4 separate regions of the Homo sapiens genome follow, and regions 1, 3 and 4 are each linked to region 2. Evidence: fine-mapped expression QTL. A gene starts in region 2. Each other region holds a variant in brackets. All regions are shown on one strand. Distances are between the middles of the regions.

Evidence for each region.
Region 1: its variant is fine-mapped to the expression of ZNF155 in vagina (GTEx, PIP 0.98).
Region 3: its variant is fine-mapped to the expression of ZNF155 in whole blood (INTERVAL, PIP 0.92).
Region 4: its variant is fine-mapped to the expression of ZNF155 in whole blood (INTERVAL, PIP above 0.99).

The regions. Positions count from the first base shown.
Region 1 is chr19:44,315,079-44,321,158 of GRCh38, forward strand. No RefSeq gene overlaps it. Among named protein-coding and RNA genes, the nearest start is that of ZNF235, 13 kb to the left of the region's middle. The variant T/TTTAAATTAAATTAAA (reference allele first, on the strand shown) is at 3,129.
Region 2 is chr19:43,980,661-43,986,740 of GRCh38, forward strand. ZNF155 (zinc finger protein 155) reads left to right here and starts at 3,528. Exons shown (of 5, transcript NM_198089.3): 1 at 3,528-3,585. It also overlaps a transcript of ZNF221 not described here. RefSeq lists a silencer at 3,225-3,424.
Region 3 is chr19:44,202,510-44,208,589 of GRCh38, forward strand. It overlaps a transcript of ZNF227 not described here. Among named protein-coding and RNA genes, the nearest start is that of ZNF227, 7.0 kb to the right of the region's middle. RefSeq lists enhancers at 5,160-5,259, 5,270-5,319. The variant T/G (reference allele first, on the strand shown) is at 3,402.
Region 4 is chr19:44,034,666-44,040,745 of GRCh38, forward strand. No RefSeq gene overlaps it. Among named protein-coding and RNA genes, the nearest start is that of ZNF222, 12 kb to the left of the region's middle. The variant C/T (reference allele first, on the strand shown) is at 3,115.

The DNA.
Region 1 (6,080 bases), 330 kb after region 2:
TCTGTTGAAACCTTAACTCTGGGCCTCTATAGGGCATCATTGTCTTTGCAAACATTTACTGTACACCTGTAATGTATAAAGCACCATATTTACTCTTAAGGAGTTCCCACTCTACTGAGCTAAAAATGCTATAGGACTGTGAGGGGAACTAAAAAAGCAAAACAAACCAAATCCAAAATTAGTAAAAAGAAAGAAATAATAAAGATCAGAGCAGAAATAAATGAAATTGAAACTATAAAAACAATACAGAGGATAAAATGGAAAGATTTTTTTTGAAATGGCAATGTTCATAAGCCTTTAGCTAGACTAAGAACTGTGAGAAATAAGGACAAAATATTAGCCATATCTAAACTGCTATTAATCCCATCTGTTAATTTTTTTTTTGAGATGGAGTCTCACTCTGTCACCAGGCTGGAGTGCAGTGGCGTGATCTCAGTTCACTGCAACCTCCGCCTCCCAGGTTCAAGCGATTCTCCTGCCTCAGCCTCCCTAGTAGCTGGGACTACAGGCACAAGCCACCACACTCAGCTGATTTTTTAATATTTTTAGTAGAGATGGGGTTTCACCATATTGGCCAGGCTGGTCTCAAACTCCTGACCTCGTGATCTGCCTGCCTTGGCCTCCCAAAGTGCTGGGATTACAGGTGTGAGCCACCGTGCCTGGCTCCCATCTGTTAAATTCTTAATGTCAGTCATTGTGTTGAGCTTTCTAGGATTTTAAATTTTTATATAACCATTTTTTAAAAATGGATCTTTTAAATGCCACACTAAGCATAAACTTTTCAAAAACAGAACCAAGTGATTACTTTTAGTTTTCATTTATTTTCTTTAATCAGTTGTTTTAAAGTTTGTGCCCGCTAACTCCAATATCTGGATCATCTGGAAGTCCGTTTCAACTATTAGAATATCATGCTTATGTACAGTTTCTTTTGCCTGCAGTCTTAAGGAATCTACTCATTCCCCAAGTTTGAATGTTTATATTGTCTTTTGTTTTTGTTTTGGCATTTGGCCAATTTTCTGGCAAGCCCCATTAATTTTTGTTGAATGCCAGGTATTTTGTATAAAAAATGGTGTTGACTCTAGATAATGTAATCTTCCTTCAGAGGATCTAAGTTTTCTTCTGGCAGACAGAGGACAGGCATATCACAAACTTTACTCACATGATGTTGTGATCCATTATTTTTGACTTGGAGAATATGAGGATTTTCATTTTCGGCAGGACAATGAGCCAATATAGATAAAATTTAAAACACGTCTATTCACTCAACAACCACACATTTAAATGTTCTATGGAGATGATGAATATAAAGAGATGAAACTTATTTTTCTCTGGTTTTTATTGCATTGTGGTTTAGAAGAGTGAAAAACAGTAAACAGGCCTTCAATAGTAAGAAATTGGTTAAGTAAAAATAACACATTAATACACAAGAATACCATGCAGGCATTAAAAATTAGGTTGTAGGTCATTTAAATTTTTTTCTCAGTTTATTGTTTTGTTTCTTATTTTTATGATAATTTAATACATTTATGTAATTTGTAAAAATCAAATCAGTGTACTTGGAATATCCATCACCTGAAATATGTGTCCTTTCTTTATGCTAGCACCATTCTAATGCTTCTCTTCTAGCCATTTTGAAATATACAATAGATTACTGTAAACTATAGTCACCCTACTAATCTACTGCTAGGTCTTATTTCTTCTATCAAACCATATTTTTGTACCCATTAATCAACTTCTCTTCATCCCTCCTCCCTACTACCCTTGCCAGCCTCTGGCAACCAGCAATCTACTCTCTATCTTCATGAGATCCACTTTTTTTAGCTTCCATATATAATTGAGAATATGTTATTTGTCCTTCTGTGTTTGGCCTATTTCATTTAATATAATTACTCCCGGTTCCATCCATGTTGCTGCGAAAGATGGTATTTCATTCTTTTTTATGGCTGAAGAATATTCCATTGTGCATATATACAATTCATCCATTAATGGGCAGTTAGGTTGATTTCATATTTTGCCTATTGTCCATAGTGCTGCAATAAACATGAGATTGCAGGTGTCTTTTTGATATATTTTCTTTCTTTGAATATATACCCAGTACTGGAATTGCTGGACTGTATGGTAGTTCTATTTTTAGTTTTTAAAGAAACCTCCATACTATTCTCCATAGTGATTGTACCAACTTACATCCCCACCAACAGTGTACAAGCATTCCCCTTTTGCCACACCCTCACCATCATCCATTATTGCCTGTATTTTTGATAAAAGTAATTTTAACTGGAGTGAGATGAGATCTCACTGTGGTTTTGATTTGGATTTCTCTGATATTGATCATTTTTTTCCTTATACCTGTTGGTCACTTGTATGTCTTCTTTTGAAAACATCTATTCAGATCTGTTGCCCATTAAAAATCTGATTATTTGGCTTTTTTGCTATTGAGTTGTTTGAGCTCCTTATATATTCTGGGTCTTAATCCCTGGTCAGATGGTCAGTTTGCAAATATTTTCTCCCATTCTGTGGGTTGTCTCTTCACTTTTTAAATTGTTTCCCTTGCTCTGCAGAAGATTCTTAGCTTGATGTAATCCAATTTGTTAATTTTCACTTTGGCTGCCTGTGCTTTTGAGGTGCTACTGAAATCTTTGCCCATATCAATGTTGTGAATCATTTCCCCAATGTTTTCTTCTATTAATAGTAGTTTTATAGTTTTAGGTCTTATATTTAAGTCTTTAATCAATTTTGATCTGATTTTTGTGAAGGTGAGATAAGGGTCTAGCTTCATTCTTTTGCATATATTCAGTTTTCCCTGCACTATTAATTGAAGAGACTGACCTTTCTTCCATTGTATGTTCTTGGTGCCTTTGTCAAAGATGAGTTAACTATAAATGCATGGATTTATACTTGAGCTCTCTATTCTTTTCCATTGGTCTATGTGTCTGTTTTTATGCCAGTACTATGCTGTTTCAGTTGCTGTTGTTTTGTAGTATATTTTGAAGTCAGATAGTGTGCTGCCTCCAGCTTTCTTACTTTTGCTCAGAGTTGCCTTTGGCTATATGGCATCTTCTGTGGTTCCATATAAATGTTAGAATTGTTTTTGTCTATTTCAGTGAAGAATGTCATTAGTATTTTCTTTT[T/TTTAAATTAAATTAAA]TTAAATTAAATTAAATTAAATTAAATTAAATTTATCACTATTATTTTTCTTGAGAAGGAGTCTTGCTCTGTCGCCCAGGCTACAGTGCAGTGGCGCAATCTTGGCTCACTGCAAGCTCTGCCTCCCAGGTTCACGCTATTCTCCTGCCTCAGCCTCCCAAGTAGCTGGGACTACAGGTGCCCGCCACCATGCCCGGCTAATTTTTTGCATTTTTTAGTAGAGACAGGGTTTCACCATGTTAGCCAGGATGGTCTCAATCTCCTGACCTCGTGATTGGTCTGCCTTGGCCTCCCAAAGTGCTGGGATTACAGGCATGAGCCACTGTGCCTGGCCTGTCATTAGTATTTTCATAGGAATTTCATTGAATCTGTAAATTGCATTGAGTAATATTGTCATTTTGACAATATTAATTATTCCAATCCATGAGCATGGGCTATCTATTTTTTGTGTCCTTTTCAATTTCTTTCATCAGTGTTTTAGAGTTTTCCTTGGATAGTTCTTTCACTACTTTGGTTAAACTCACTCTTAGGTATTGTATATTCTTTGTAGCTATTGTAAATGGGATTGCTTTCTTGATTTCAGATTGTTCACTGTTGGCATATATAAATAATACTGATTTTTTATGTTTATTTTGTATCCTGCAACATTACTCAATTTTCTTATCAGTTCTAATGGTTTTTGATAGTCTTTAGTATTTTCCATTTTTAATAACATGTCATCTGTCAACAAGACTAATTTGACTTCTTCCTTTCCAATTTGGATGCCCTTTAATTTCTCTGGGAACTGGAGTGCTAAAGTTTTCTCAGTGTTCCTCCCACCTAATTGTTCTATGCAGGATTTCCAGTACTATCTATATTGAATAAAGGTGGTGAGATTAGGCATCCTTGTCTTTTTCAAGATCTTAGAGGAAAGGCCTTCAATTCTTCCCTGTCAGCACAATGTTAGCTGTGGGCTTGTCATATATAACTTTTATTATTCTGAGGTATGTTCCTTCTACACCCAGTTTGATGAGGATTTTTATCATAAAGGGATGTTAAATTATATTGAATGTTTATTTTTAGCATCTATCAAAATAATCAGATGGTTTTTCTTCTTGGTTCTGTTAGTGTGACGTATCACACTTATCAATTTGCATATACTGGATCATCCTTGCATCCTTGGGATGAATCCCATTTGATCATGGTGAATGATCTTTTTAATATGTTGGTGAATGATCTTTTTAATATGTTGCTGAATTCAGTTTGCTAGTATTTTGTTGAAAATTTTTGCATCTATGTTCACCAGTGATAATGTCCTGCAGTTTTTTTTTCCATTGTGTCCTTTTCTGGTTTTGGTATCAGGATACTGTTGGCCCCATAGAATAAATTTGGAATTATTCCCTTCTCTTCAATTTTTGTGAAGAGTTTGAGTAGAATTGGTATTAGTTCTCTAAATGTTTGGTAGAATTTAGCAGTGAAACCATTAGGTCATGAGTTTTTCCTTGATAGGCGACTTTTTATTATGGCTTCAATTTCATTATTTGTTACTGGTTTATCGAGGTTTTCTATTTCTTCATAGTTCAACTGTGGTCGATTGCATGTGTCCAGGAATTTATTCATTACTTCTAGGTTTTCCAAAGTGTATCATTGTTCATCACAGTCTCTAATGATTCTTATTTCTAATGATTCTTATTTTTGTGGTCTCAGTTGTTAAGTCTCCTTTTTCATTTCTGATGTTATTTACTTGGATCTTCTTTCTTTCTTGGTTAGTTTAGCCAAAGGTTTGATGATTTCTGTTTATCTTTTTAAAATCCCAACTTTTCTTTCATTTATCTTCTGTATTCTTCTTTCATTATCAATTTTATTTATTTCTGCTCTGATCTTTATTTATTTTCTTCTACTAATTTTGGATTTGGTTTGTTCTTACTTTTTTAGTTCCTTGAGGTGCATCATTAGGTTGTTATTTGAAATCTTTTTACCTTTTTGATATATGTTTGTTGCTATAAACCTCTAAGTTTTGCTTTGGCTGTATCCCATAGATTTTGCCATGTTGTATTTCTATTTTCTTTGTTTCAAAAAATGTTTAAATTTCCTTCTTAATTTCTTCATTGCCTCACTGGTCATTCAGGAGCATGCTGTTTAATTTCCATGTTGTTTGTGAAGCTTCCAATGTCCTTTTTGTTATTGATTTCTAGTTTAATTATACTGTGGTCAGAAAAGATACTGAATATAATCTCTCTTTTTTTTTTAATTTGTTGAGATTTGTTTTGTGGCCTAAGATATAGTCTATTCTGGACAATGTTCCATGTACTGATGAAAAGAACATCTATTCTGCAGCAATTGGGTGAAATGATCTGTAAATGTCAGTTATGTCTATTAGGTCTAGTGTGTGACCTAACTTCAATGTTTCTTTGTTGATTTTCTGTCTGGATGATCTGTCCATTGCTGAGAGTGGGATGTCAAAGTCTCCTACTATTATTATTTTGCCATATATCTCTTATTTTCGATCTATTAATGTTTGCTTTATAAACTTCGGAGTTCTGGTGTTGAATGCATAGATATTTATAATGGTTATATCATCTTGCTGAATTGACCCATTAATCATTTTATAGTGACCTTATTTGTCTTTTTTACAGTCTTTGATTTGTAGTCTATATTGTATCTTATACAAGTATAGCTACTCCTGCTCTTTTTTCGTTGCCTGTTGCAAGCTATGTCTTTTTCCACCCCTTCACTTTTAGACTATGTGTGTCTTTACAGGTGAAGTGGGTTTCTTGCAGGCAGCATATAGTTGGGTCTTGTTTCTCTATCCATTCAGCCACTTTATGTCTTTTAATCAGAGGATGAGTCAATTTACATTCAGTGTTATTATTGATTAGTAAGGACTTACTACTGCCATTTGTTGCTTGTTTTCTGGTTGTTTTGTAACTCCTCCCTTTCTTTCTTCCTTTCTTACTGTCTTCTTTTTTTGCT
Region 2 (6,080 bases):
TTCACTGATGTAGGCCTATTGAGCTATCCCTTCTGGGTGTAGGGCAAGTAGAATATAGCCCTTCCTACGATCAAAAAATAGCGTCACAACGCCTAGTGGACCACTGGGGCTATTGTATGCTACTTATTCCTCATTGAGGCGTGCTACTTTGCCTATTTTGTGTGACCTGAAAACATTTTGACTCATCCAAGATAAGTCTGTGCAATGTGTCCCAGCTGCTATGTAAGTTTCTCTGCCATCAGGACCCTATGACCCAGAAAAGCCAAAAGTGATTAAAATGTTAATGAAAGATAGTGATGGTTGAGCCTTTGGCTGGCCCTAGTTAGTAAATCAGCACTTTACAAGGCTGAGGTGGGAGAATCGCTTGAGCCCAGGACTTCAAGACAAGCCTTGGCAACATAGCAAGACCTTGTTCTAAAAAAAAAAATTGAGGCGAACAGACCAAAAACTCAACATAAAAATGGGTAATAGATTTGAACAATTTACAAAAAGAAAAATAATATTGACACAGGAAATATGCAAAAATGTTCTATGTTATTTAAAAAACAAGAAATATAAATTAAAACTAAATTTAAATACACTTCTTACCATTTGATTGGCAAAACTTTAAAAATGTTGTAATAACACATTTTGTTAGCTAGTTTCAAGGCAAGAGTATATTTATACATTACTTCTGCAAATGGAAATGGTACCAAAAAATTAAGGCAACTTGACAATATGCAACAAAATTTCTATTAATATCTTCACTTTTCAATCCTGCTTTCTGGGATGTACTCTTCTGATGTATCTTCAACAGGGATAATATACAAATGTACAAGTGTATTTATAACAGCATCATTTGTAATAATAAAATATTGGAAGTCACTGAAATGTCCATAAATTGCAGCACTGTTATATAAACCACTCAATGGAATTTATGCAGTTTTAAAAATAAATTACTCCATATGACATGATTTCCAAGATGTTATTATGTGAATATAGAAGAATTAGAAGTGTACTATCCTAACATTTAAGTAAAAAGGAAAAATAAGAAACACATCTATTCTGTTAAAAAAAAGTGGTAATGAAAATAATAAAATTAGTTACATAAAGGTGTTAGGTGGCAACACTGTGGAATTGGTTTAGGGGTAGGAAGGAGGGGAGTGGCACTTCTCTGAGAATAATATGTGGTAGAGCATTGACTCATGGGAACATGTTGATGACTGACATACCCAATAATATAAAATCAAGAATGAGATTTCTTTGTAGATAAACTAGGAAAGTGAAAATCATAGAATAACAAATTAACCTAAATGTATTTCAAATCAATAACATAAACAGTCTAAAGGTGACAGCAAGAAGTAATTTAAGCAACTTATTAAACAGTACAGTGTTTGACTATATATCCTCAGTCTAAAGACAAAAAGAACTATAAAAAATGTTGAACTCTACTTTTGCATTGTTTTTTACAATGATATGAATTAGTAACTCTGACACTGCATGATGCGTATGCAATGGTCTTAATGTTTGTGGCCCACCAAAATCCATATATTGTAATTTTTACCCTCAATGTGATGGTAATAGGAGGTGGGGCCTTTGGAGGGTGATTAGGTCACGGGATGAATACCCTTATAAAAAATGCCAGAAGGAGCTTGTTTGTCACTTCAACCAAATGAAGACACAGCAATATGGTGCTAACTATGAACAAGAAAGTGGCCAACTACCTGACACAAAATCTGCCAGTGCTTTGATCTTGGATCCCAGTTTCCAGATCTGTGAAGAATAGATTTCTGTTGCTTAAAAGCCGGCCGGGCGTGGTCGCTCACGCCTGTAATCCCAGCACTTTGGGAGGCCGAGGTGGGCGGATCACAAGGTCAGATCGAGACCATCCTGGCTAACACGGTGAAACCTCTTCTCTACCAAAAATACAAAAAAATTAGCCGGGCATGGTGGCGAGCACCTGTAGTCCCAGCTACTCGGGAGGCTGAGACAGAAGAATGGCATGAACCTGGGAGGCAGAGCTTGCAGTGAGCCGAGATCGCGCCACTGCACTCTAGCCTGGGCGACAGAGCAAGACTCCGTCTCAAAAATAAAATAAAATAAAATAAAATAAAATAAAATAAAATAAAATAAAATAAAATAAAAGCCAGGCAGGCTATGATATTTTGTGACTAAAAAATATTGGTACTGAGAGGTGGGCTTGCTGCTGCAACAAATACCTAAAAATGTAGCAGTCTTTGGAACTATGTAATGGATAGAGTCTAGAAGAGTTTTTACATGTATGCTAGGAAAAGCCTACATTGCCATGAATGGACTGATAAGGACAATTCTGGTTAGCGCTCAGAAATAGAGAATAAGAACTGTAGAGAAAACATCAATCTTGTTAGAGCATACCTAGGTAGTCATGATCAGAATGTTGGTAGAAATATGGACAGTAAAGGCCATTCTGAAGACCTCAGTCAGAAATGTTGAACATGTTATTGGAAGAGAAGAGAGCTTCTTGTTATAAAGGGACAAAGAATTTGGCTGAATTATATTCAGGTGCTAGTGTTTTATGGAAGGTAGAATTTGTGAATGATATAATTGTTTATCTGAATTAATTTCTAATCAAAGTGTTGAAGTTGCTTGAATCATCTTGACTACCCGTAGTGAAAGGCACGAAGTGAGGAATGACTGAAATAATTATTAATTAAAAGGGAAACAGAACTAAAATTTTTAAAAGTTTACAGCCTATCTACTTTGGAAAAAAAAAAAAACAGGAAACCTGAAGAATACAAGGGTATGGTTAAGCAACTAACTAATTCATGAATTTAGTATGGATTGGCCATGTCAACTGAAGCCAGGACCTATTGTCCAAGACAATGGAAGAATGACCCCAAAGGCATTTCACAGATTATGGCAGCTTCTCCTCCCATCACAGGCCCAGAGTGCAAGGACCTGGGGGACAGAAAGGGCCTTTGATGCCAGATATACCCTAATATATTAGGCACAGTTTCCTGCCTACTACGATTGAGCGTGTCAATAAATTTTTATCTCTTGGGAGGGCAGAACAGAGCAAGGATACAGCTGTAACTGGTTTAGAAATAGCAGTCACTCAATTTTCAGAGAAGTGTTCCTCATACTGTGGTTGGCACAGTCACTTTATCTAAAGAAAACCATGAAAAGTATTCTTTTTTAGTTTAGAAAAATTGATATAGAACATGAGACTCCATTTTTTTAAAATAAAAATATAGGTTGATAGGCCAGAATTCACAGGTCCACCTGCCTGAGCCAAAATTCTCACGCCTCCACAGAGCAAATGGACTCCATTTCCCAAGATACCAGCGAAACGCCTGCGGGAGTCTAATTGCCCGGTCGATGCGCAGGAAATTTGGCTCCCGCAGGCGTTTCGCGAGTAGCTTGGGAGGCGTGGGAATTTTGGCCCAGGCAGGAGGACCTGTGAATTCTGGGAAGTGGAGTCCATTTGCTCTGTGGAGTCGTGGGAACTTTGGCTCAGGCAGGCGGATTCGGGGGATTCTGGGAAGTGTAGTCCAGACGCCTGTGGCATCATCGACACTTCCGGTCTCCGAGCAGGACACTGCTACTTAACAAGGTGGTTTGAGCCAAGTATGTGTCTTGCGGGTCTTTGCGAAAGTGAACCAGTTATTAGGGGCGCCTAACGACCTGGGGGGTCAACTAAGGGGGTAAGAAGCCCTGGAGAAGACCTGAGGTTTGGAGATGCGAGGGGTGGGAGGGAAGTTTCGTTGCCGTCGATGGAGCCTTCTGGCGTTGGGGGCTGTACTCAGGTCCACCGGAGGAGTCGTCGGGGGTTCGGGGGGGGCGGGGAAGAACTCTGTCTAGTCTTGTGTGCCTGTTTAGAGGGTTTTCCAGGTGTTTGACCTCGTTCAGTCCGCCTCCCTCCACTCTTAAGTGTGCGACCTCTTTCTCGCGATATAACGTGGGGTGTTACTTAATCTCCCTGTACCTCCCATTGCCGTTTTTTAAATGAGGATTTCAGGACCATCCTGATAGAATTGTTTTAGGAGTTGAAAGTTGTGGTATAAAACAAAGACTTAACAGCTCCTGTCACTTGGTGTCCTGTTAATTTCCCGCGAAGTGGTCAGGTGCCCGGGTGGGGTCAGAGCTCCAGCTGCTCCGGCCCTTCTCTTGGAGCCCGGCAGGGCTCTGGATGATCCCGGACGCCTCTGACCTCTTTTTAGGAAGGCGTGGGTTGCATCCACGTTTCACGAAGGGAGAGGAGCATTTAACTTGTATCCGGGACGGCGACGCAGAGTGTTTGACAGCTTTCTCCTTCCCCAGCCTGACTTTTCTAAAAGAGCTGCAGGGAGGGACTTGGCTACTGAGGACAAAGCTGTCTACACGAGTGGTCTTTGGCTTTTCTCTTTTTAAAAAAAAGTTATTTATTTTGTTAGTCTGTTTTTATTATTGTTATTATTTGAGAATGAGGTTTGCTCTGTCTCCCAGGCTGGAGTGCAGCAGTGGCGCGATCTTGGCTCACTGCAACCTCCGCCTCCTGGGTTCAAGCGATTCTCTGTCCTCAGCTCCGGAGTAGCTGGGATTACAGGCATGCGTCACCATGCCCGGCTAATTTTTGTATTTTTAGTAGAGACGGGGTTTCACCATGTTGGCCAGGCTGGTCTCGAACCTGTGGTCCTAAGTGATCCGCCTGCCTCGGCCTCCCAAAGTGCTGGAATTACAGGTGTGAGCCACCGCGCCGGGCCGGTTTTTTCTTTTACAGAGATGTTCACCTCAACCAAGAGTGTATAGGATGTGTCCTTGGGCATGGGTGTTGATAATAATTAAACCTTAATTGGTAACTTAATTCTAAGGGCTTTATGGAAATAAATACATTTACGCCACACCATGGCTCTGTGGAAAGGTATTGCTCTTTTTCTTTTTTTTTTTTTTTTTTTTTTCCTGAGACGGAGTCTCGCTCTGTCGCCCAGGCTAGAGTGCAGTGGCGCGATCTGGGCTCAGTGCAATAGGCCGCCTCCCAGGTTCAGGCGATTCTCCTGCTTCAGCCTCCTAAGTAGCTGGGATTACAGGTGCGCACCACCACGCCCAGCTAATTTTTGTATTTTTAGTAAAGATGGGGTTTCACCGTTTTGGTCAGGCTGGTCTGAAACTCCTGACCTCGTGATCCGACCGCCTTGGCCTCCGAAAATGCTGGGATTACAGGCGTGAGCCACCGCGCCCGGTCGCTCTTTTCCATTTTAAATATGGGAGTGAGACACCTGGTGCTTAGTTCCCAGTAGAATGAGGTACAGCTGGAGCTGGAACCTAGGCAGTTTGGGTCAGAGCCTGAGTTGATCATCCCTTGGATACATTTTCATTGAGGTAGAGGAACTAGCTGGAATCAGGTGGGGAAAGAGAGTTAGGACTTGATTGAAGGGACCTTGAGAGCAAGGCTCATAGACTTGGACTTCTGTAGGAGTCTTTTAAAAATTTGTCAACATCCTGTTTCACTTTTTATAAGGATTTTGTATTGTGGAACCATATCATTGTGGAGCATTTTAAAATTAGATTAATAGGAGGAGAAAACATGTTTTAAATTACCCATGAATCCAAGATGTGAAGGTGCTAACTGTCTGATACAAGAGATGGAACTTCCAGTTCTCCTCCGTTTCTTTTTAGTCTTTCTCTGTGTCTATTGTATATTTATTTATAAGCATTTAAAAAAATTGTTATAATATCTTAATGTGTTTTCCCATATTTCTTTAACTATGGAAATTTTTAAATACTGCTAATAGAGAATAAACTAGTAAACTGCCATATTATGTCATGCTCATCCAATATTATTCCCATTTGTGTTTTTTTTTTTTTTTTTTTAGACGGAGTCTCGCTCTGTCACCTAGGCTGGAGTGCAGTGGTGCGATCTCGGCTCACTGTGAGCTCCGCCTCCCGGGTTCACACCATTCTCCTGCCCCAGCCTCCTGAGTAGCTGGGACTACAGGTGCCGGCCACCATGCCCGGCTATTTTTTTGTATATTTAGTAGAGACGAGGTTTCACTGTGTTAGCCAGGATGGTCTCGATCTCCTGACCTTGTGATCCGCCCACCTCGGCCTCCCAAAGTGCTGAGATTACAGGTGTGAGCCACGGC
Region 3 (6,080 bases), 220 kb after region 2:
AATCAAAACAACAATGAGATATTGCTTAGCCACCAGATTGGCTACAGTAAAAAAGACAGATAATAAAAGGGTTGCCAAGGGAGTGGAGAAATTGGAACCCTCATACATTGTTGGTGGGAATGTAAAATGGTGCAATTTATTTGGCAAACAGTCTGGCAGTTTCCCAAGGGTTTAAACATAGAGTTATTATATGACTCAGCATTCCACTCCTAGATATACAACCAAGAGAAATTAAAACTTATGCCTACACATAAGCTTGTACATAAATGTTCAAAACAACATTATTAATAATAGCCAAAAGTAGAAACAATCCAAAATAGCCATTAATGAATAAATAAGATGTGATGTATTCATCCAATGGCACATTATGTAGCCATGAAAAGAAATGAATAACTGGTTCATGCACCAACATGGATGACCCTTCAACATGTTATGCTAAGTAAAGTTCGTTTCAAAAGACCACGTATTGTGTGAGTACACTGACAGAAAATGTTCAAAATATGTACATCTACAGAAAGTAGATTAGTGATTGCCTAGGGCTGAGGAGTTTGGGAAAAATTGGAAGTGACTGTTAATGGGTATCAGGTATCTTTTTGAGATTATGTAAATGTCCTAAAAATTGATTGCAGTGATAGTTGCACAACTCTCTGGATATAATAAAATTCATTTAACTGTGCTCTTTAAATGGGTAAACTGTATCCATTATATCTCAATAAAGTTTCTATAAGAAATATCAAAAAATAGCTCTCCCTCTCCCTCTCCCTCTCCCTCTCTCCCTCTCTTCCCTCCCCCTCTCCCCCCTCCCTCTCCCCTCCCCCTCTCCCCCTCTCCCTCTCCCCTTTGCACGGTCTCCCTCCCATGCCGAGCTGATACGAGGCTGGACTGTACTGCCGCCATCTCTGCTCACTGCAACTTCCCTGCCTGATTCTCCTGCCTCAGCCTGCCGAGTGCCTGGGATTGCAGGCGTGCGCCGCCACGCCTGACTGGTTTTTGTATTTTTTGGTGGAGACGGGGTTTCCCCCTGTTGGCCCCCCTGGTCTCCAGCTCCTGACCACGAGTGATCTGCCAGCCTCGGCCTCCCGAGGTGCTGGGATTGCAGACGGAGTCTCGCTCACTCAGTGCTCAATGTTGCCCAGGCTGGAGTGCAGTGGCGTGATCTTGGCTCGCTACAACCTCCACCTCCCAGCCACCTGCCTTGGCCTCCCAAAGTGCCGAGATTGCAGCCTCTGCCTGGCCGCCACCCCATCTAGGAAGTGAGGAGCGTCTCTGCCTGGCCGCCCATTGTCTGGGATGTGAGGAGCCTCTCTGCCCGGCTGCCCAGTCTAGGAAGTGAGGAGCGCCTCTTCCCTGCCGTCATCCCGTCTAGGAAGTGAGGAGTGTCTCTGCCGGGCCGCCCATCATCTGGGGTGTGGGGAGCGCCTCTGCCCCGCCGCCCCGTCTGGGATGTGAGGAGCGCCTCTGCCCGGCTGCGACCCCGTCTGGGAACTGAGGAGTGTCTCTGCCCCGCTGCCACCCTGTCTGGGAGGTGAGGAGCGTCTCTGACCCGCCATCCCGTCTGAGAAGTGAGGAGCCCCTCCGCCCGGCAGCCGCCCCATCTGGGAAGTGAGGAGCCTCTCCGCCCGGCAGCCGCCCTGTCTGGGAAGTGAGGAGCATCTCCGCCCGGCAGCCACCCCGTCCGGGAGGTGGGGGGCAGCCCCCGCCCGGCCAGCCACCCTGTCCGGGAGGTGGGGGGGGCGCCTCTGCCCCGCCGCCCCGTCTGGGAAGTGAGGAGCCCCTCTGCCCGGCCGCCACCCCGTCTGGGAGGTGTACCCAACAGCTCATTGAGAACGGGCCATGATGACGATGGCGGTTTTGTTGAATAGAAAGGGGGGAAGTGTGGGGAAAAGAAAGAGAGATCGGGTTGTTACTGTGTCTGTGTGGAAAGAAGTAGACATAGGAGACTCCATTTTGTTCTGTACTAAGAAAAATTCTTCTGCCTTGGGATGCTGTTAATCTATAACCTTGCCCCCAACCCCCTGCTCTCTGAAACATGTGCTGTGTCCACTAAGGGTTAAATGGATTAAGGGCAGTGCAAGATGTGCTTTGTGAAACAGATGCTTGAAGGCAGCATGCTCGTTAAGAGTCATCACCACTCCCTAATCTCAAGTACCCAGGGACACAAACACTGCGGAAGGCGGCAGGGCCCTCTGCCTAGGAAAACCAGAGACCTTTGTTCACATGTTTATCTGCTGACCTTCCCTCCACTATTGTCCTATGACCCTGCCAAATCCCCCTCTCGGAGAAACACCCAAGAATGATCAATAAATACTAAAAAAAAATAAAAATAAAAATAAATAAATTAAAAAAATTTAATAAAAAACAATCAATACATCAAAAAAAGAAATATCAAAAAATACCAAATAGTAGGTATTGCTGTGTCTCAAATGCATAAGGTATTAATATTCGTGGTATATAATCCAAGTGAACAAGGAAAATATAGCACCCATAACAGAAGAAAAGGGCATAAATATACAGTTTACAGAATAGGCTGTAAAGTATTTTGAAGAAATGCTCAAACTTATTAAAAATCAGAGAAATTTGATTAAAACAGTGAAATACCAGTATGTGTTTAATGGAGTGGCAAGACATAGGATGATGGTTCATGGCAAATGATGGTATGGAAATGGGTGGTTATACAACAAACTGTATTCAGTGCTCATGAGAATGTGGAATGGTTTAACCATTCAGGAGAGCAATATAGCTATTAATATTATTTGTAAATGTGTAAGTATATGACTCTGCTATGAACCAACAACTACACTTATGGATATGTGTCCTAAATAAATTGTCACACATTTCTATGAAGATGTATAGTGATGTTCCTAGCATTGTTATTGCCAATGGCAATCCAGGTTTCTGTCATGGAATAGTAAAATATTTTGGGTGTAAACAATTAGTTCTATAAAATAGGTTAATGTATGCTAGAAACATGGATGAATCTTTAAAACATACTGCTGAGTTTTGAAAGTCTTAACATTTATTTTTATGACATAATACCACTTATATAAACTAAAAGTGTGCACACACAACCACATCACATGCACTTTGCACAAAACACACACAAAGAGAAACACAACAAACAAAATATGGGGCTGGGGGAGGAAATGAAAGTGTTCCATAGGGAAAAGAAAGGAATAAATAAATAATAAAATTATTTTGACCAAGTTGCTAGATATAAGCTTCAGTACAATTTGATTAGAAGTGGTGATATTCAGCATTTTCTTCCCATTCTCATTCTCAGAGATAAATTTTCAACATTTTGTTAATTGTTGTGTATGTTCATTTTAGTTTTAAGTGGGAATTTATATTTCTTAAATGTATCATCATAATGTTCCTCATAATATTCTCAATATATTTAGTGA[T/G]GTTCCCTTTTACTTCTGAAACTGGTAATATGTCATTTCTGTCTTTTTTGTTTACTGTCACTGGACTTTGTCAGTTTTATTGTTCTATTTATAGAATGATCATTTTACTTTTTAAGATCCACTCCATTTCGTTTTCTATTTCATGTATTTCCTATTATCTTGATCATTTCTTTCCATCTACCCACTGTGGTTTTGGTATTTGTTTATTGAATTCCTGAGATAAATGTTTTTATTTTTTTGTTCAGCTTTTCTCCTGTTTTAGGACAGATGCTCCTCAACTTACAGTGGGCTCACATTCTGATGAACTTACCTACCGTAAGTTGAAAGTATCCTAAGTCGAAAATGCATTTAATACACCCAATCTACCAAACATCATAGCTTAGGCTAGCCTGCCTTAAAGGTGCTCATGACGTTTATATTAGCCCCCAGTTGGGCAAGGTTTTTTGTTTTGTTTTGTTTTGAGAGGGAGTCTCGCTCTCTCGCCCAGGCTGGAGTGCAATGGCTCGATCTTGGCTCACTGCAACCGCCGCCTCGCAGGTTCAGGTGATTCTCTTGCCTCAGCCTCCAGAGTAGCTGGGACTACAGGTGCGCACCACCACGCCCGACTAATTTTCATAGTTTTAGTAGAGACAGGGTTTTGCCATATTCTCCAGGGTGGTCTCAAACTCCTGACCTCAGGTGATCCAAGGGCAACGTTATCTAGCAAAAAGAAGCTTATTTCATAATAAAGTGTTGAATATCATATAATTTATTGAATAGGTATTGAAAGGGAAAAACAGAAGGGTTGTATAGGTACTGTACTGAATGTGTGTTGCTTTCACACCATCATGAAGTCGAAAAATCTTAAGTGAACCATTGTTAACTCCAGGACCTGTATATGATTTCAAGGCTTTCTATGTTTCCTTCTAATCATGTATTAAAAGCTCTCCTGTTTATCAGTGTTTTTCTCCTTATGAGTCTGTCAATCAATTTTTCTTTATAAAGTTTGCTTTACATTATGTAAGGCTGTTATAGTTGATAGAAAATTTTCATTACTATGAAGTGTTTCTTTGTATATCTTAAAATGTTCTTTTCTTCAAGGACTATTGTACTTTGTCCAATATTAATATATTTTAAAATTAGAGAAAGAATATGAGGCCTAGGACGATAGTCTCTTTCTCCATTAGAATATTTTTGTTTATGTCAGGTACCTGCAAACACTAACAGAAAAGGTTTACTTTAATCTATTTTCAGGTACGAATGTGATTTCAAGTTTTGCTTCAGTCCCCTAGTGAAGATGATCTATTTGCCCTTTATCTTTACTCCTGTAGTGCAGCTCTTTGGGTTTTACTAGGTACCCTTCTCCCGATCCCCAACTTCTTCCCCAAGGCCCTTGAACAACAGAATCGGTAGGTACCACCAAGACAGACACTTCCACTCTAAAATTGCAAATCTTGGCTAAGATTTGCTCTGGCTTTCTAGGATACCCGGAAGCTCAGGTTACTCGGAAGTATTTCCGCTCCAAGGAGCGGAACTATGGCCGGTTTCCCCTGGGGCATTCTGGGAAGTGTAGTCAGGGGCCCGCGTAGCCTGGGGCACTTCCGCTTTTGGATGGCGGAGCTAGGGAATTGTGGGAAGTGATCCGGGGTTTCTCTTTAGTTGCTGGGAAGTTTTTTCGCTCTAGGAGGGCGAAAACAAGTGTTTGGATCCGCTGGGACCCTCCAAGTTTTCTCAGCCTCGTCAGGGAGCAAGCGGGGCCCTGGCCCTCGTCTGGAGGAAGGCTAGAGAAGCTGTGGCCAGCTGGGAGGCTGGAGTTGGGAGCAGTTTGTGTTCTTTCCTCTCGGCTGAGCCTCACGTTTGGAGCAGTTCTTGCGTCCCCGGGTTGGGAGCGTCCTGGATCGGTTGTCGCTTGGTTAGAGGGTCTCCTGGCGTTCCGCAGCCAGCCTCTCCCACCTACTTGCCAGCTCTGCCACTTACTAGTGTTATAACGTTTTGTGAGTTAATCTTAATCTTTCTCTATCCCATTCTCCTCATTCCTGAAGTAGAGTCATTAGTAGGAGGTCCTTGTACTTTTATACGAATTATTCATTAAATGTCCAAAATACCGTTATGTGGTAGGTACCACTTATGTTCTAACAGAGAGACGAAGATAATAGACCTCTCCACACAATGTAGAAAAGAAAGCTGTCTTATTACTGAATAAGGACAACCACTGTATAGTATTGTAGGCAATCTAAAGAAAAATATTATTAAAAAATTCCGCCCTATGTGTACAGTCAAGCAGTTTTAAACTTTTTATACAATTCTACTTTTGACCACTATGTACATCAGTTCTCAAGATTAATGATTTTTCAATAAGAGGACTTGGTCTCATCATTTACTGCAAATTCTTTTATAAATTTATTCTAAATTTACTTGAGAATCCAGTGTTAGTTAACTAACTTTATCGAAAGTAATAAAACTTCTCTTACCTCATCTGCTAGCCGATTTACAGTTTAAAGAGAGGCACCTTGGTTAAACTCTTGCAGTGATAGGGACAGTGGGTTGTTATTTTCTCAGATGTTTATATTCAAAAGGGACAAATCTCAGAACTTTCACAAATACTTCTAGGTTGTAAACCTGGCTAGAGGCTTACATAGCCGCTAATGAAATTTACATGCGTATCAAAAGGTTAGAGAAAGGATTCAGAAGCACTAGGTT
Region 4 (6,080 bases), 54 kb after region 2:
GGCTGGAGAAAGCCAACCATTGTGGTAACACTGAATCAAAAGTTCAGTCAGGTGATTTTCAATCATGAAGAAATCTTGTCCAGCAGTCCTGTCAGCTCACATGTCTACCCCTCAGGGAGAGAAAGGCCCCCCATGTCCCATGATCCTAGACAAATCCCCAAAGAATATGCCACCAACCACAGGTTCCTGGGCTCTGCAATAGAAATTGAAATGAGACTGAAAGGGTTTTCCCAGACAAGCCTTCACTGGAGCTTATGCCTGGACATAAGGAAGGCGGCACAAGAGAGAATTTCCTGACTCCCTTCAAAGAGCTCATAGGATTGTTTATTTGGCAAAGCGTGGGAATTAACATCAGGGATAGGGTTTGAAGGCTGGGCTGGGAAAAGCACATGACTGGTAGGGCATGCAGGTCAGCATTACCTGGTTGCAATGCTTATCTTGTGTACTGGGCCACCTGGTGGTCTGGGTGGTGGCAACAAGGCTGTAAATCAATTGTTTAGCATTTCATCCTGAAGGGAGACACTCTACAACTTTGGTTATCACCCAAGGCCAGTTCCTGGAATTCTTAGCAGTGAGGTAGAGGTGTGGGTTTTGTGATCATTGGGAATGCATGAAAGAACGCTCTAGTCGGGGTGAACTGAAGCCAAGCCCTGTCTCTACTCTGTCAATAGAACTCAGAAGAGTTCTACTGCAAGTGAAGAAAAGGGTGACTGGAATCACCTAACAGAGTCACAGCCCCAAAATCAAATCCAAGACATGTCCAGTTTACAAATCCACATTCATTTACATGAAAGGGAGGCCAATACTGGATGAGAATAGATCCTACCACATTTCAGAGTTCTCCACAGGAAACTATGGCCATGAACCTGTGTGACTATGTACTCAAAAGGAGAAATAATCACTCTTTTTGACAATGACTGAATCCTTATTGTCAAATGGCACATTAATGTGATGATTGGACCTGGTGAGAAAAAAGTAGAAAGTAATCTAGACATGTTTGTAAGACACATGCATATCAGAAGGACAGAATAAGTCCTATAAATATTCATAGGACTTCCACCTCAGTGAAATTTCCATGAGTTCACTGATGCAAAACTATTGAGATATTCCTTCTAGGACAAGCGTGGTGGTCATGCCTGTAATCCCAGCACTTTGGGAGGCCAAGGCGGGAGATCACTTGAGGTAAGGAGTTTAAGACCAGCCTGGCCAACATGATGAAACCCCATCTTTACTAAAAATACAAAAATTAACTGGGCATGGTGGTGGGTGCCAGTAATCCCAGCTCTTTGGGAACCTGAGAAAGGAGAATCACTTGAACCCAAGAGGCGGAGATTGCAGTGAGCCAAGATTGCACCACTGCACTCCGGTCTCGGTGACAGAGTGAGACTGTCTCAAAAAAATAAATAAAGATATTCTTTCTAATCTAAGGTGTAGGGCAAGTAGCATGTGATGCTTCCTAAAACCAAAAAAAGTGTCCCAATGCCCAGTGGCCCTGCTCAGCTGTTGGAGGCTACTTATTCTTCACTGTGGTGTACTACTCTGCTTTTTATGAGTGACCTGAAATCATTTTGCCTCAGTTGAGACAAGGTTGTGCAATATGTGCCAGCTGTCATATAAGCTTCTCTTCCACTAGGGTCCTATGATCCAGGAGACCCACAAGTGACTGAAATATCAGAAACAGATAGTGATGTTTGGAGAGAGTGGCTGGCCACAACTGATGAATCAAAGCACAAACACATAGAATTTTGTAGCGAAGCCCTGAAATCCTCTACGTATGTTTACTCTCTCTCTCTCTTTTTTTTTTTTTTGTACAGATGGGGTCTCACTTTGTTGCCCAGGCTGGTCTTGAACTCCTGGCATCAAGCAGTCCTCCCACTTAGTAAAGACAGAGCACTTAACCATGGGCTACCAAATTAGCATGTGAGCCAAGGTTTCCATTATGAATTGGGTGTAGTTGGCCACTCCATATCTTTAAATTGTATGTGCACATTGGTATTCCACTTGGAAGTGGTATATATGAGATTGGGTTGGAGCGGGTCCTGAAGCCACAGGTAAGTGCCCCTAAGGCCCATTGTTCCTACTCCTGCTACAGTACCATCAGAATGAGTGAACATGAAGATAAGTCATAGGAAATTATTGTGTCTCAGAAGCAAAAAAAAAAAAAAAAAGAAAAAGAAATGAGTAAAAATACACAAAACCCAAGGCACCATATATGCATTATAGGTGTCCTAGGAGGAGACAGAAAAAGTCAAAGAGAGCTTTACAGAAATAAAGGCTGAAAACTTCTCAAATATGAAGAACACATTATTCTGTAAATCCAAGCTCAATGAATTTCACATAAGATAAAATCAAAGAGACCCAATTGAGACATATTGTTAAAAATTATTGGAGGACAAAGACAAATGAAAATTTTGACAGCAGCAAGTCCAAAATGACTTGTCATGTACAAAGAATCTTCAATAAGATGTCAGCAGATTTTCAGCAAACATCTGAAGACAGATGATGTATTCTCTGCTGAAAAAACCAAAAACACACAGTTGTCTACTGAGAAATCAATATTCAGCAAAACTATCCTTCAAACATGAGAGATAAATTAATACTTTTCTAAAGAAACAAAAGCCAAGAGAGTCCATTACCGGAAGACAATTTATATGAGAAGTTATAAAGGGATGCCATCAAGTTGAAGTGAAAGGATGCTAGACAGCAACTTGAAACCATATGAAAACATAAATATCTAAAGTAAATAAAATTACATGAATGATGTAAAACTCACTATTTTTGTAATTTGAGTTTTTACTCCACTTTTTATTTTGTACACTATGTAATAGGAAAATGCATTAAAATGATTGTAAATCTATGTGAATGGGTACACAATATGTATAGTTGCAATACATGATACCAGTCACATAACATGAAGGGAAGCAGAAGTTGTGAAGGAGTAGCGTTTTTGCATGTGACTGAAGTTAAGTTGGTATCAATTTTAAATAGATGGTTATAACTTTAGACCATAGCATGTAGAATGTTATGTTTCTTCAAATAAAGAACATATCAGTGAGACACACAAAGGGAAATGAGAAGAGTTTCAAAATGTATCACTACAGAAAAAGGACTCAA[C/T]ATAAAGGAAGGCAGTAATGGAGGAAATTAGGGGCAAAAGGCAGTAAGACATTTAAAAAATAACAAAATGGTAAGACCTTTCCTACAAATAATGAGTTTAGTGTAAATGAGTGAAACTCCTCAACCAAAAGATGTTCACTGGCAAAACCATTGAAAAAAACAGTATCCAAGTGTATGCTCTGCACAAGGGATATGCTTAAATCTAATGATGTGCATAGATTGAAACGGAAAGGATGGAAAAAGTTATTCCATATAAATAGTAATAAAAAGAGAGCAACGGTGGCTTTACTAAGGGCTAAATTAGACTTTAAGTGAAAAATTGTTAGAAGAGACCAAGAAGAACATTATATATTACTAAAAGGATGATTTCACCAAGAAGATATAACAATTATAAACATATGTGCACCAAACATCAGAGCTCCTAATTATATGAAGCAAATACAGAATTGAAGAGAGAAGTAGCTACCCAATAATACAGTTGACTGTGAGCCACATGGATTTGAACTGCATAGGTACACTTACGTGTGAACTTTTTTCAACCAAACTCAGATTGAAAATACAATATTCATGGGATGTGAAACCCACATATATGAAGGGCCAAATTTTTATATACATTGGTTCTACAGGGCTGACCGCAAGACTTGAGTATGTATGCATTTTGATATACCCACATATACTAAGGGTCAACTGTACTAGGACACTTCATACCTCACTTGCAAATAGCCAGACCAAAGATATGTAAGAAAAACAAACAAACAAAGATAAGTAAGGAAATAGAGGATTTGAAGAATATTATACACAAAATTGACCTAAAACACATATACGGAATAACCCACACAACAACAACAGAATATACATTTTCTCATTTGCACATGGAATATTCTCCAGGATAGCTATATATTAGGCCACGAATCAAGTGTTAATAAATTTTAAATTTTAATATAATAAAATACATTTTTTCCAATTACAATCTAGATCACAAAAACTAGAAATGATAGCAGCAAGAAAAGTGAAAATTCACAAGTATGTGGAGACTAAACACATTCTTAAATAACCTATATGTCAGAGTAAATTAGAAGTGAACTTAAAAAATATATGGAGACCATTGAAATTAAAAACAACGTGCCAAAATTTATTGGATGAGGTAAAAGCAGTAGTAGGTGGGAAATTTGTACCTGTAAATGCTTATATTAAAGAAAGAAATATCTTAAATTCACAACCTAATTTTATATTCATGAACTACAAAAAGGCAAAGAATTTGAACCAGAAAGCTAGTAGAAGGAAAGAAAGAATACCGATTAATGCAATGACAAATGGAGAATAGAAAAACAGAAAATTAACCAAACCAAGAGTTGGTTATTCCAGAAGATTAAGAAACTTGAGAAACCTATAGTTAGATTGACTAAAAAATAGAGAAGCCTCAAGAAGCAAAATTTACACACAAAAATATGAACTTTACTGCAAATTTTAGAGAAATAAAAATGATTATAACAGAGCACTATCTTTAATTGTATGCCAACAAATTGTACAACCTAGATAAAATAGACAAATCTCTTAAAACATATACCCTACCAAAAATGAATCATGAAGACAGAAAATCTGAGTAGATCCTTAACTAGTAAGGAGATTGAATCAGTAACCCAGTGCCTCCCAACAAAGAAAGCCCAAAATTAGGTGGCTCCACTGGTTAATTCTTGCATTTAAAAAAAAAATTATTTTTATTTTTAGTAACCCTTATTTTACTTAGTAAGAATTATTCCAAACATTTAAGGAACACTTAACACCATAACTCCTCAACCTCTTCCCAAATAGGCAAGAGGAGGGAACACTTCCTAGTTCCTTCTCTGAGGCCAGGATTACCATGGTACCAAACCAGACAAAGACATTGCATGAAAATTATACATCAACATCCCATATGAATACTGATGCAAGACTCTACCATAAAATACCAGCAAAATTCAGCAGCATATTAAAAGGATTATACTCAATGACCAAACATTTATTCCTGGAATGCAAATATAATTTATGACTCAACATACAAATATTAATGTATTATGCTGCATGAACAGATTGAAAGATATAAAAATATAATCCACATGATCATGTCAGTGAATGCAGAAAATTCATTTAACAAAATTCACACTTTCATGATTAAAATACCACTCAACTAAAAAGAAAAGAAACTATCTCAACAAAATAAAGGCTAGATGTGGAAAATTTCAAGAGCTTATTTTCTTATTCAATAGTGAAGGACTGCAAGCTCTTTTTCTAATATCAGGAACACAATGAATTTGCTCCACTTTTCCACCTCTAGTCAACATAGTATTGGAAGTTCTAGGCAGAACAATTAGGTAGAAAAAGGAAATAAACCTGTTAAAATTGGAAACACATAAAACTGTGTCTACATGCTGATGACATGTTCTTATAAGTTCTACAGAATACACAAGAAAAAAACCTCTTAGAGCTAACAAAGTCAAAAAGTTGCTGGAAAAATACCTGTATAGAAGAAGTAGTTTGTATTTCTGCACAAAAAAACAATCTGAAAGGAAAATACTTATCTTGACAATAGCATCAAAAAGAAACAATTACTTAGGAACTGTCATAACCAAGGACAAGAGAAGCACTTGAACACTGAGCTCTGAAACATATTACTGAAGGAAATTAAAAGAGGCACAAATAAATGGAGATATATCCATTATTAATGAGTTGAGAGATAAATTACAAGGCAGTAAATACCACCTAAAATGGTCTACAGATTCACTGCAATCCTTAACGTAATCACAATGATTTTTTTTCAGAAATGGAAAAATCCACCCAAGATTCATGTGAAATATCAAGGGATGCTCTCTTCCATGGTCATAACCTAAACATTGTCATTTCCTAGAAAATACTCTTCGGTAATAATTTGCAGCACTAGTCCGCAACAACTTTCATCTGTATTGCCACCTGAGTCCCATCAGCATACT